2 linked regions of the Homo sapiens genome follow. The protein of the gene in region 1 purifies or fractionates together with the protein of each later gene. This does not show direct contact. Each region holds a gene or a part of one and is shown in the gene's direction. Other genes may lie near its edges.

Region 1 (5,552 bases):
CATGGTTCCTTTCTCCTCATTTTGGAAGTGGGATTATGTTTTTCTGTCTATTCACTGGCATGTCTCAAGCATGATTTTTAATGATGCTGTCCATATCAGCTAATTAAACAAATAGCAGATACCAAGTTCCAGTATTTTCCTTCTTCTGCGGAGAAGCCATTTTTCTCTGCCTTATAGATCATGATGAGGATATTATAAAATAATTTTGTATTCTGCCAGTATAGAGCTGAGTTACTAGGTTGACAATTAGGTAACCACGTAGTGTAATTGGAAGTCTTGAGCTGGGTGTCAAATCAGTGATGGATTCAAGTCCTGGCTCTGCCTCCTAACTAACTGTCTAGCCTTGGGAAAGTCATTTACCTTCTCTGAGCGTGAAATCCCTCATCAGGAACAAAAATAACCCCATTGAAGGGCTTTTCAGAAGACTAGAATTAACACATGTGATCCTGCACAGTGATACCTTCTAGGCCTTCAATAAATAGAAACTTTATGGCCATCCAGCCAGGGACTTGCCAGCCATCCTCCCAGGTCCTCACTGAGGCAGTTTTGAAATTCAAGGTGGAACTTGGAGGGAGGTATATAGGAAGGCCCAGACCATTTTAGGGTAGAAATGTTGGCTCCAGGAGGAAAATAGCACACCCTCTTTGTTGATAAGCGCTGACAAAGGGCTTCCCTACCAGAGATGTTGGTGGCCTGCATACAGCACAGCAGTTGTGGCCTTATTGATGAGGATAAGGTTTCCTGCTTGGCTGCAGAATTACTGGAGGGCAGAACCTAGGCCTTGGTGTTGGGCAAGGCTCCCTGGATGATCTTTTTTTTTTTTGAGATGGAGTCTCGCTCTGTCGCCCAGGCTGGAGTGCGGTGGTGCAATCTCGGCTCACTGCCAGCTCCACCTCCCGCGTTCACACCATTATCCTGCCTCAGCCTCCCGAGTAGCTGGGACTACAGGTGCCCGCCACCAAGCCCGGCTAATTTTTTGTATTTTTAGTAGAGATGGGGTTTCACCGTGTTAGCCAGGATGATCTCCATCTCCTGACCTCGTGTTCTGCCCGCCTAGGCCTCCCAAAGTGCTGGGATTACAGGCGTGTGCCACCACGCCCAGCCCCTGGATGATCTTAATGAGCATCCAAGGCTGAGAGCTACTGAGCCAGTGTGGCCGAGCAAGGCAGCCCAGTGGTACAGACTACAGGCACCAGAGCCCACCAGATGTGGATTCCTTACCCTTGAACTACAAGACCTTGGACAAGGTTCTTAACCTCTCTGAATCCTAGTTACTCATCTGAAAAATGGGGATATGAGCAGTATCGGTCTCATAATCCCCAGGGCTACTGGGGATTAAATGAGATAATACTTCTGCGGTACTTGGCTCAGTTCCTACTACCCAGTATTATTATTATTACTATTGGAGCTAATCCTGATAACATTATCACCATTATCTATCACTTCTATCCCTCCTGCTTGCCACGTAGCTTCTTCCTTATCATCTAGTTTTTAGTATCAGCAATAAAACATGTTAGTTGCCTTCAAGTCCAACAAGACCATTAAAAAGGAAATCAGCATGGCAAATGTTAGCCAGCTGTTATTCCTTTTATAAATTGAGCCCGCATTTTCTCCCTCACTTGGACCTCACTTGCACAAGGTAAGTGAGGAAGATGAAGTAATCTTTATTTTCTAATTATTTCCCAAAGTAGTGTCTGTGTTCTGGTTGATTGCTCTCCAAATAAAAAGACCTGGCTTCAATTTAGAGGCGCACTGTTGAGATCAGCTTCTTAGAGCAGCCCTGGGTGGTAGGAAGCTGGGTTCCCCGAGGGCTCTCTCTGAAAAGCTTCTACTCTTAGAGACCACCACTGTTCTCATTGGGAGGTCCCCTGATTAAAATGCAGGGGGTCCCAAAGCCCTGCCAGATCTAGGGCGCCCATGCTCTCTGCTCAGCCACTGCATTTAACCAGCTGACGAGGGAGCTGGAGGACTATGTGGGGGACTGGCCATTTCCTTGGGTAATATTTGTAAAGCTGGTATGAACTACTTCACAAATGGAAGACAGAAATACAACCCTTCTTTTATTCTTAAATTAAAAATACACTCAAGCCCATACATGCTAAATTAGCAGAAGATTTATCAGTTCCTCTTGGGATTCCTCATCCCTTCTCCCCAAATTCTCCAATAACACCCAAAGACTTACACTGCCCAAAGCGCAATATTTGGAGGGGCGATGAGCTTCACATCCATGCCTTAGAAGGGAGAGCCTGCTATGGCTTCCCACTGCCACAGAAGGCCCTGTTGATAGCTGGTCCTACCCATCAGACAGAAGGTGCTGGTTCTCTGCTGATCCAGGCCTTGAGGAGTCTCCAAGGCAGCTAATCCCCGTCCTGTGCTAGGCTTGACTAAGGGCACCTTCTTTTGAGTTCCTAGGTAGTGTGGCTTTTGGCACCTGGTTCCTTCAGTCCCACAGGCCCACAACTCTAGGAATGTTCTTAAGAATGAGTGTAGCAGCTGGGCATGATGGCTCATGCCTGTGATCCCAGCACTTTGGGAGGCTGAGGCAGGCGGATCACTTGAGGTCAAGAGTTCGAGACCAGCCTGGCCAACATGGTGAAACCCTATCTCTACTAAAAATACAAAAATTAGCCGGGCATCATGGCATGCACCTGTAATCCCAGTTACTCAGGAGGCTGAGGCAGGAGAATTGCTTGAGCCTAGGAGGCAGAGGTTGCAGTGAGCTGAGATCGAGCCACTGCACTCCAGCCCAGGTGACAGAGCCAGACTCCATCTCAAAATAAAAATAATGAGTGTAACACTTGGGCCCTTGTGAGACCTTGGTCCTGCTGGACATGTCTGTCCCTAGGACAGGGATTCCTTTTTCTATGCAACCCTTCACATATCAAGGATCTCACTTTATTCTCTGTCTTGAACACCAGGGCTTTCTTCACTCTTCCATAAGGAACCTACCTTTAGGCAGTGGTCTCATGGTAGATATGTAATTAGCTTTGGAGGGGGGTCCTGATTTCTAGCATTTGCCAATTTCCGTGATGTACATACTCCCATCAGGGCCAGTTTCAAGCTACCAACTTGCCATCTTTTGTCACAGTGTTGTGAAGAGATGCCCCAATTGATTCTTACAGGCTGGCATGAGCTGGAGCAACCATTGCCTTTGGGGCTTCCAAGTTGGTTTGTCTTCCTCGAGTCATCCTGGTAGATTTCTGCACCTGTCACCCCAGAACAGAAGTAGAAGAAAAATCCAAGTTGATTTTCCACACATCTCCCTATATTTGGTTCTCATTTGTCTTCATGCATTGATTGGCTTCATAAGCATCATAAAGTAGGCATTGGCGAAGGCAATCTTGACATGCCTGGAACAGAAGTTAAGGCACAAAAGAGATACCTAATCCTGTCTTGTCCTTTTGGATGGTGAGGCTTTCTACCAGGTTAAATTCAGAGAAGTGGAAAATAAGGCTTTTAATTGTTGAAAATTGAAACTTTTATTTGTAAATAAATTTCTTTAAAACATCGCATACTATACAATATAAAAAGAGAGCTTTCCCTGAATTGTCTTTTCATATGTGGCTTTATTCTTTTTTTTTTTTGAGACAGAGTCTTGCTATGTCACCAGGGTGGAGTGCAATGGCACGATCTTGGCTCACTGCAACCTCCACCTCCCGGGTTCAAGCCATTCTCCTACCTCAGCCTCCCAAGTAGCTGGGACTACAGGCACACGCCACGACGCCCAGCTAATTGTTCGTATTTTTAGTAGAGATGGGGTTTCACCATGTTGGCCAGTATGGTCTCGATCTTTTGACCTCGTGATCCACCCACCTCAGCCTCCCAAAGTGCTGGGATTACAAGCGTGAGCCACCACACCCAGCCTGTGGCTTTATTCTTATGACATTTTAAATTCATACTTATAGCTCTCTCAAAAGCTGATGGAAAACTGCATTAAAATTTAAAAAGAAACCAATTGATGAATTTCATTTCTTTCTTAGGTGCAAGGGAGCAGCCAAGAGAGAGACAGACACGATGGATACCTTTGTTGATTCTGCTTGGTACTACTTCAGATACACTGACCCTCATAATCCACACAGGTAAAACGTCCCTGCTGATGTCTTTGAGCATTTGTCAGTGTGGCTCCTCCTAGAAGCAAAGACCAAGATGGAATTAGACATGCAAGAGATTTCTTGGGGGGAAATGCCTGTGCAGATTAAAGGGGAGAAGAGGAGGAGTGGGCAGAGAGTGCTCTTAGACCACGATGGAGCTGTGACAGGTGTGAAAGGAGAAGGGAAAGGAAGGAGGATCAGGTGGAGGAGCCTCAGCCCACAGCACAACTCTGAGAAAGCCTCGACCTGGCCAGTGGGAAGGCCCAAGCAAAGCTTGTCCATTAGAGTCTTACAGTCAGGCTAAAATGGCTCTGCTCCAGCCCCTCCCTCTACTCTCCTGGGAGCAGCCTGGGAGAGCAACATGGGCTGGCAGGAACACACCAGAGTGGGTCCACAGATGCAGCAGCTGGAAGCTGTCAGTCAACTGTGCACCTCGGAACAGGCTCTCTTAAAGGGAGAGTGCTACATCATTAAGTTAGATTATTCACAGCCAAGTAAATCCCAAGTACAACACAAATACAAAACGGAAAAAGAAGGAAATGCTACTGTGATACCCTCCTTGCAGTGAACTGCATTTGTATGATTGTAAAGATGTAATGTTATTTATTTAACTGAAAAGAATAATGTAACTCTACAGAGAAGGTAGCAGGTAGGGAGGGTGAGACCGCTAAGAAGCCTCACCTCTTACTACATAGTAGATCATTTCCTAAATTGATAAATCAATAAAGAGTATAAACATGTTTTTTTTTTTCAATAATTGCTGGGAGAAACAACCAAAAGAATTAAAAGTGGCTAAGAGACAGGCCTGAGGCAAGGAAAGAATTGGGGCTGGAGACCACTGTTTTTCATTGTAAATCTTTCAGTACCATTTTGATTTTTAAGCTGTATTCATGTGTTTATTTGAACCCCGCCCCCCCCAAAAAAAGAAACAAATTAAGGAAAAGAGAGCAGTAGGTAGCCTTATAAAGAGAGAGAATGAGAACCGAAAGAAACTCTTCCAGAGCCCAGGAAAAAACACAGCATTGTGCTTAAAAGGGCCTTGCCTAATTGCTCTTGTCCATGGCAGAAACATTCTGGAACCCTGTTGCCTACATATAAAATATGCCTCCCTATTCTTCGTGGTTCTAAAATAATATCTTTCTAGTGAGACAGATACTCCTGCCCTCACCCTGCCAGAATTTCAACCTGCAGTGTTGTGATTCTGTAATTTGAGTTCATATCAGATATAAGGGGGATCCTTGTCAGGCATGGTGGCTCACGCCTGTAATTCCAGCGCTTTGGGAGGCCGAGGCAGGCTGATCACCTGAGGTCAGGAGTTGGAGACCAGCCTGACTAACATGGCAAAACCCCAACTCTACCAAAAATACAAAAATTAGCTGGACACGGTGGCACGCACCTGTAATCCCAGCTACTCAGGAGTCTGAGACAGGAGAATCGCTTGAACCCGGGAGGCAGAGGTTG
Region 2 (4,526 bases), on another chromosome or scaffold:
ACTAGACGTTTGGAGATTTTTATTTCCAATTATCACTCGGTACTTCCAACATTCAGTGTTTGCACGAACCAGAGATAAATACCTTTGTGTGGTCAAAGTAATATAATTTTTGATAACTTAGTGAAAGGAGAATTCTAGACTCCAAGGATATGGCCCTTTATTTTCACATAGCTAGTTTACAAATAGCTGTCCCGGCCAAGTTCAGTGGCTCACGCCTGTAATCCTAGCACTTTGGGAGGCTGAGGTGGGCGGATCAAAAGATCAGCCTGGCCAACATGGCAAAACCCCACGTCTACTAAAAATACAGAAATTTGCCAGGTGTGGTGGTGGGCGCCTGTAATCCAAGCTACTCAGGTGGCTAAGGCAAGAAGATAGCTTGAACCTGGGAGACTGAGGTTGCATTGAGCCAAGATAGTGCCACTGCACTCCAGCCTTGGCGACAGAGTGAGGCTGTCTCAAAAACAAAAACAAAAACAAAAAGCTGTCCCAGGTTGTACCCTACCAACAATGGGTGACGGTGCCTATTTCACTAAACTCAACATCAAACTTACCTTGTTTGCCTGTTACCTTGTTGCCTGTTATATAGAAGAAAAGTATTTCATTGTATTTATCTGCATTTTTCTGCAGGTGAGATTTTCGTTTGCATTTCTTCACAGATTATACTCTTCTGATAATTGGACATTTGTGTCGTCTGAATGGCCTTTTCATGCCCTTTGCCGATTTCTGTGCTGGGTTGTTTGTCTTATTGAGTTATAAAGACTCATATAAAATGTTTCTATTGTTTTAATCTGTCATTCAATTTAATCTGATTCGACTTGTGGTATTTTGATCACTAGGCTTCTAGATTTTATGTTACGCTTTAAAAGGACTTCTTTGCTTTTAAATTATTAAAAATATGACTGTAAGGCCAGGTGCGGTGGCACACGTCCGTAATCCCACGATGCAGGTGGATCACCTGAGGTCAGGAGTTCAACACCAGCCTGGCCAACATGGTGAAACCCTGTCTCTACTAAAAATACAAAAATTATCTGGGTGTGGTGGCAAGCGCCTGTAATCCTAGCTACTTGAGAGGCTGAGGCAGGAAAATCGCTTGAACCCGGGAAGCAGAGGTTGCAGTGAGCCGAGATCACGCCACTGCACTCCAGCCTGGGCGACGAGTGAAGCTTCGTCTCAAAAAAAAAAAAAACTATATGTATAACTCTGTTATATATAGAAAGAATAATATTTATGGTTTTATTTTTACATTTTACATTTGGAGGTTTAATTAATTTAGAATGTATTTTGCATGTGGTGTGAGGTAGGTAGGGATGAAAACATGAAACATTTAGGCTGGGCGTGGTGGCTCATGCCTGTAATCCCAGCACTTTGGGAGGCTGAGGCGGGCAGATCACCTGAGGTCAGGAGTTCGAGACCAGCCTGGCCAACATGGTGAAACCCCGTCTACTAAAAATACAAAAATTAGCTGGGCATGGTGGCGGATGCCTGTAATCCCAGCTACTCGGGAGACTGAGGCAGGAGAATCACTTGAGCCTGGGAGGCGGAGGTTGCAGTGAGCTGAGATCATGCTGCTGCACTCCAGCCTGGGCAACAGTGCAAGACTGTGTCTCAAAAAAAAAGAAAAGAAACATTTGTCATCAGAAAGATCACTTCTGCCCCTCCCAGTGCGTCTCCCCTCCCAGCCCCTGCAAAAATAAAAGTCGCTGTTGTGATTACTTCACCAGATATTAGTTTTACCCATTCTAGAACTTCATGTAAAATGGAGCCATGCAATACTAGCTCTTTTGTGTCTCATTTGTTGTTTTGTTTTGCTTCTTGTAATCAGTTTTATTCTAGAAATTTACAGTACATTTTGATATCTGATAGGGCAGGTCGGTAAGTTTTCTTGAATTATTTTCAACTACTTTATCAGTGGGTTTTATCAAGATTTTAACTGAAAATAGAGGGACTGCTGTAATGTGTGAATTCAAAATGCTTTAAAATTCCAGAAAGCATATCTCATGTAATCTCAGTTCTCCTCCTATTGCTTGGACTTGGAGAAAATGACATCCCTTTTAAACAGCACTTGGCCAAAACAGAATTGTCACTTTAACATTTTTTTTAAAAACTGCTTATACAGCAAAAGTCACATTCCACATGACGTGACTCTCACCATCTTAGCAGACTCTCAAAATAATTATCAGGGGCTGTGCGAGATGGCTCTCGTCTGTAAGCCCAACAGTTTGGGACACCGACGCGGAAGGATGACTTGAGCCCAGGAGTTGGAGAGCAGCCTGGGTGACATAGTGAGACCCCATCTCTCCAAAAAATTAGAAAAATTAGTCAGATGTGATGGCGTGCATCTGTAGTCCCAGCTACTCAGGAGACTGAGGTGGGAGGATCACGTGAGTCCAGGAATTTGAGGTTGCAGTGAACCATGATTGGGCTGTGATTGCTCTCCAACCTGGTAACAGGGCAAGACTCTGTCTCGAAAAAATAAAATAATTACCAGGAAACTAAATTTATTTGTAGTGTCATCACAAAGTACAAATTAATAGGATGTTTTATGGTGTTTGAGAATGTTTTGTAACTGGAGATGCAAAGTTGGCCTGTTTGCTTGGTTAAGTATTACCCAATCCTTTGCTGCTGGCTTGTTTTGTTCAGTTTTTGTTCATTTTGGCAATTTCATACTTAAGTTGCAAGAATAATGCAAGGAATTCCCATATACCCTTTACCCAGAGTCCCCAAATATTGCCATCTGACTACATTTGCCTTGTCCTTTTCTCTCCTTGTATGTATGTTTTTACTAGACCGCATGGTAAGTTGCAAGGCGCATATGCCCCTTTGCCCTACGTACTGCAGTAAAGTAAGGATATTACCTAACTGTAGATGTCCAGATCAGGAAATTAACATTGATACAATACTGCCACCTCGTCTTAGTCCTCATTTAGATTCAGTAGTTTGTTCCAATAATATTCTCTATAACTCAGACAAAAAATGTCCAGAGTCATGCATTGCATCAGGTTGTCATGTTTCCTTAGTTTTCTTTAATCTTGAACACTTACACTTATTTTGTAGTTTATTTTTCTATTTGAATTGTTTTGGGTTCTCCCCGCCCCATAATAAGGATCAAGTTATACGCTTGTCAGAAATACACCAGACATGTTGTATTCCTGTTTTTTGTTTTGTTTTGGTTTGAAACCGGGTCTTGCCCTGTTACCCAGGCCAGAGTGCAATGGTGCAATTGTAGGTCACTGCAACCCTGAATTGCTGTGCTCAAGCGATCCTCCCACCTTGGCCTCCCAAAGAGTTGGGATTACAGACATGAGCCACCACGCCCAGCCTATATTGTCATCAGAGTATACTATCCAGAGGCACATGCTGTCAGTTTGAGCCATTATTGGCCATGTTAGCTGACTTCAAATGCTATTGGCCAGGTTTCTCCACTGGAAAGTTACTGTCTTCCTTTTCACAGTTACATTTGTGGGGAAGATACTCTGAGACTTTGTAAATATCCTGCTCATCGTCCATTAGTTTTAGCAACCACCAGTTCCTGTCTATTCATTTATTCTGGTAGTTGCCAAATGGTGATTTTTTAATTTTGTTATTGTTTGTTTATTACTTGGTTTACTGACATAAGGAATAGCTTGCCCTTTGCCCTCATTTATCTGTGTGAACTTAGATTATTTTATTCCATAGGTTGAAAGCCTTTATGCTTATTTACTACAATGTGCAAAACGTTCCATTGGGAACCCTGTCAGACAGGCTCCCCTGTCATTTCCACATGTTCATGCCATTCTTGGGATACTTTTTTACCTTCTGGAATGGCAGGGTACGTGAGTCTCATCTTATGCTTTTCCTGCCCTTTCCCCGGAATCAGCCATTTCTTCCAGGTGCCCTGGGCCCTTTTGAGGAGAGCTATTAGAAACCAGGGTCTGCAGCCAGGCGCGGTGGCTCACGCCTGTAATCCCAGCACTTTGGGAGGCCGAGGCAGGCGGATCATGAGGTCGGGAGATCGAGACCATCCTGGCTAACACGGTGAAACCCCATCTCTACTAAAAATACAAAAAATTAGGCAGGCGTGGTGGCGGGCGCCTGTAGTCCCAGCTACTCGGGAGGCTGAGGCAGGAGAATGGCGTGAACCCGGGAGGTGGAGCTTGCAGTGAGCCGAGATTGCGCCACTGCACTCCAGCCTGGGCGACAGAGCGAGACTCCGTCTCAAAAAAAAAAAAAGAAAAAAGAAACCAGGGTCTTGGAACTTAGATGTACTTCTGTAACTAGGATGTCAACTCCTGGGCCAGTACTTGGTTTGTGAGAGCTACTGGGCTGATTGTACCTCAGGAAATTAAGTACTGTTAAAGCAATCCGAAGCAAGCCAAAGACAGCTTAAGAAAGGTGACAAAGCCCTCATGAACAGTTTGGCAAACTTGCTAGCTGGTTAAAATTGTTAATCACTTCTCCAGGATTTTTTAGGTGACAGTTATATCATTAGTGAATCAAAGAATTAAGCATGTTGCCAGATTGACATTGAAATGTACATAACATTCTTA

What was found.
Region 2: the proteins of LARS2 (region 1) and SAFB purify together in Homo sapiens (co-immunoprecipitation; one large-scale study listed by IntAct). This does not show direct contact.

What each region holds. Positions count from the first base shown.
Region 1 is NC_000003.12:45,492,295-45,497,846, forward strand, and holds part of LARS2 (leucine--tRNA ligase, mitochondrial), read left to right. Parts: intron 1-2,949; exon of another isoform or gene 2,950-3,206; intron 3,207-3,980; coding exon 3,981-4,079; intron 4,080-5,552.
Region 2 is NC_000019.10:5,629,583-5,634,108, forward strand, and holds part of SAFB (scaffold attachment factor B1), read left to right. Parts: intron 1-4,526. UniProt on the Homo sapiens protein: Binds to scaffold/matrix attachment region (S/MAR) DNA and forms a molecular assembly point to allow the formation of a 'transcriptosomal' complex (consisting of SR proteins and RNA polymerase II) coupling transcription and RNA processing.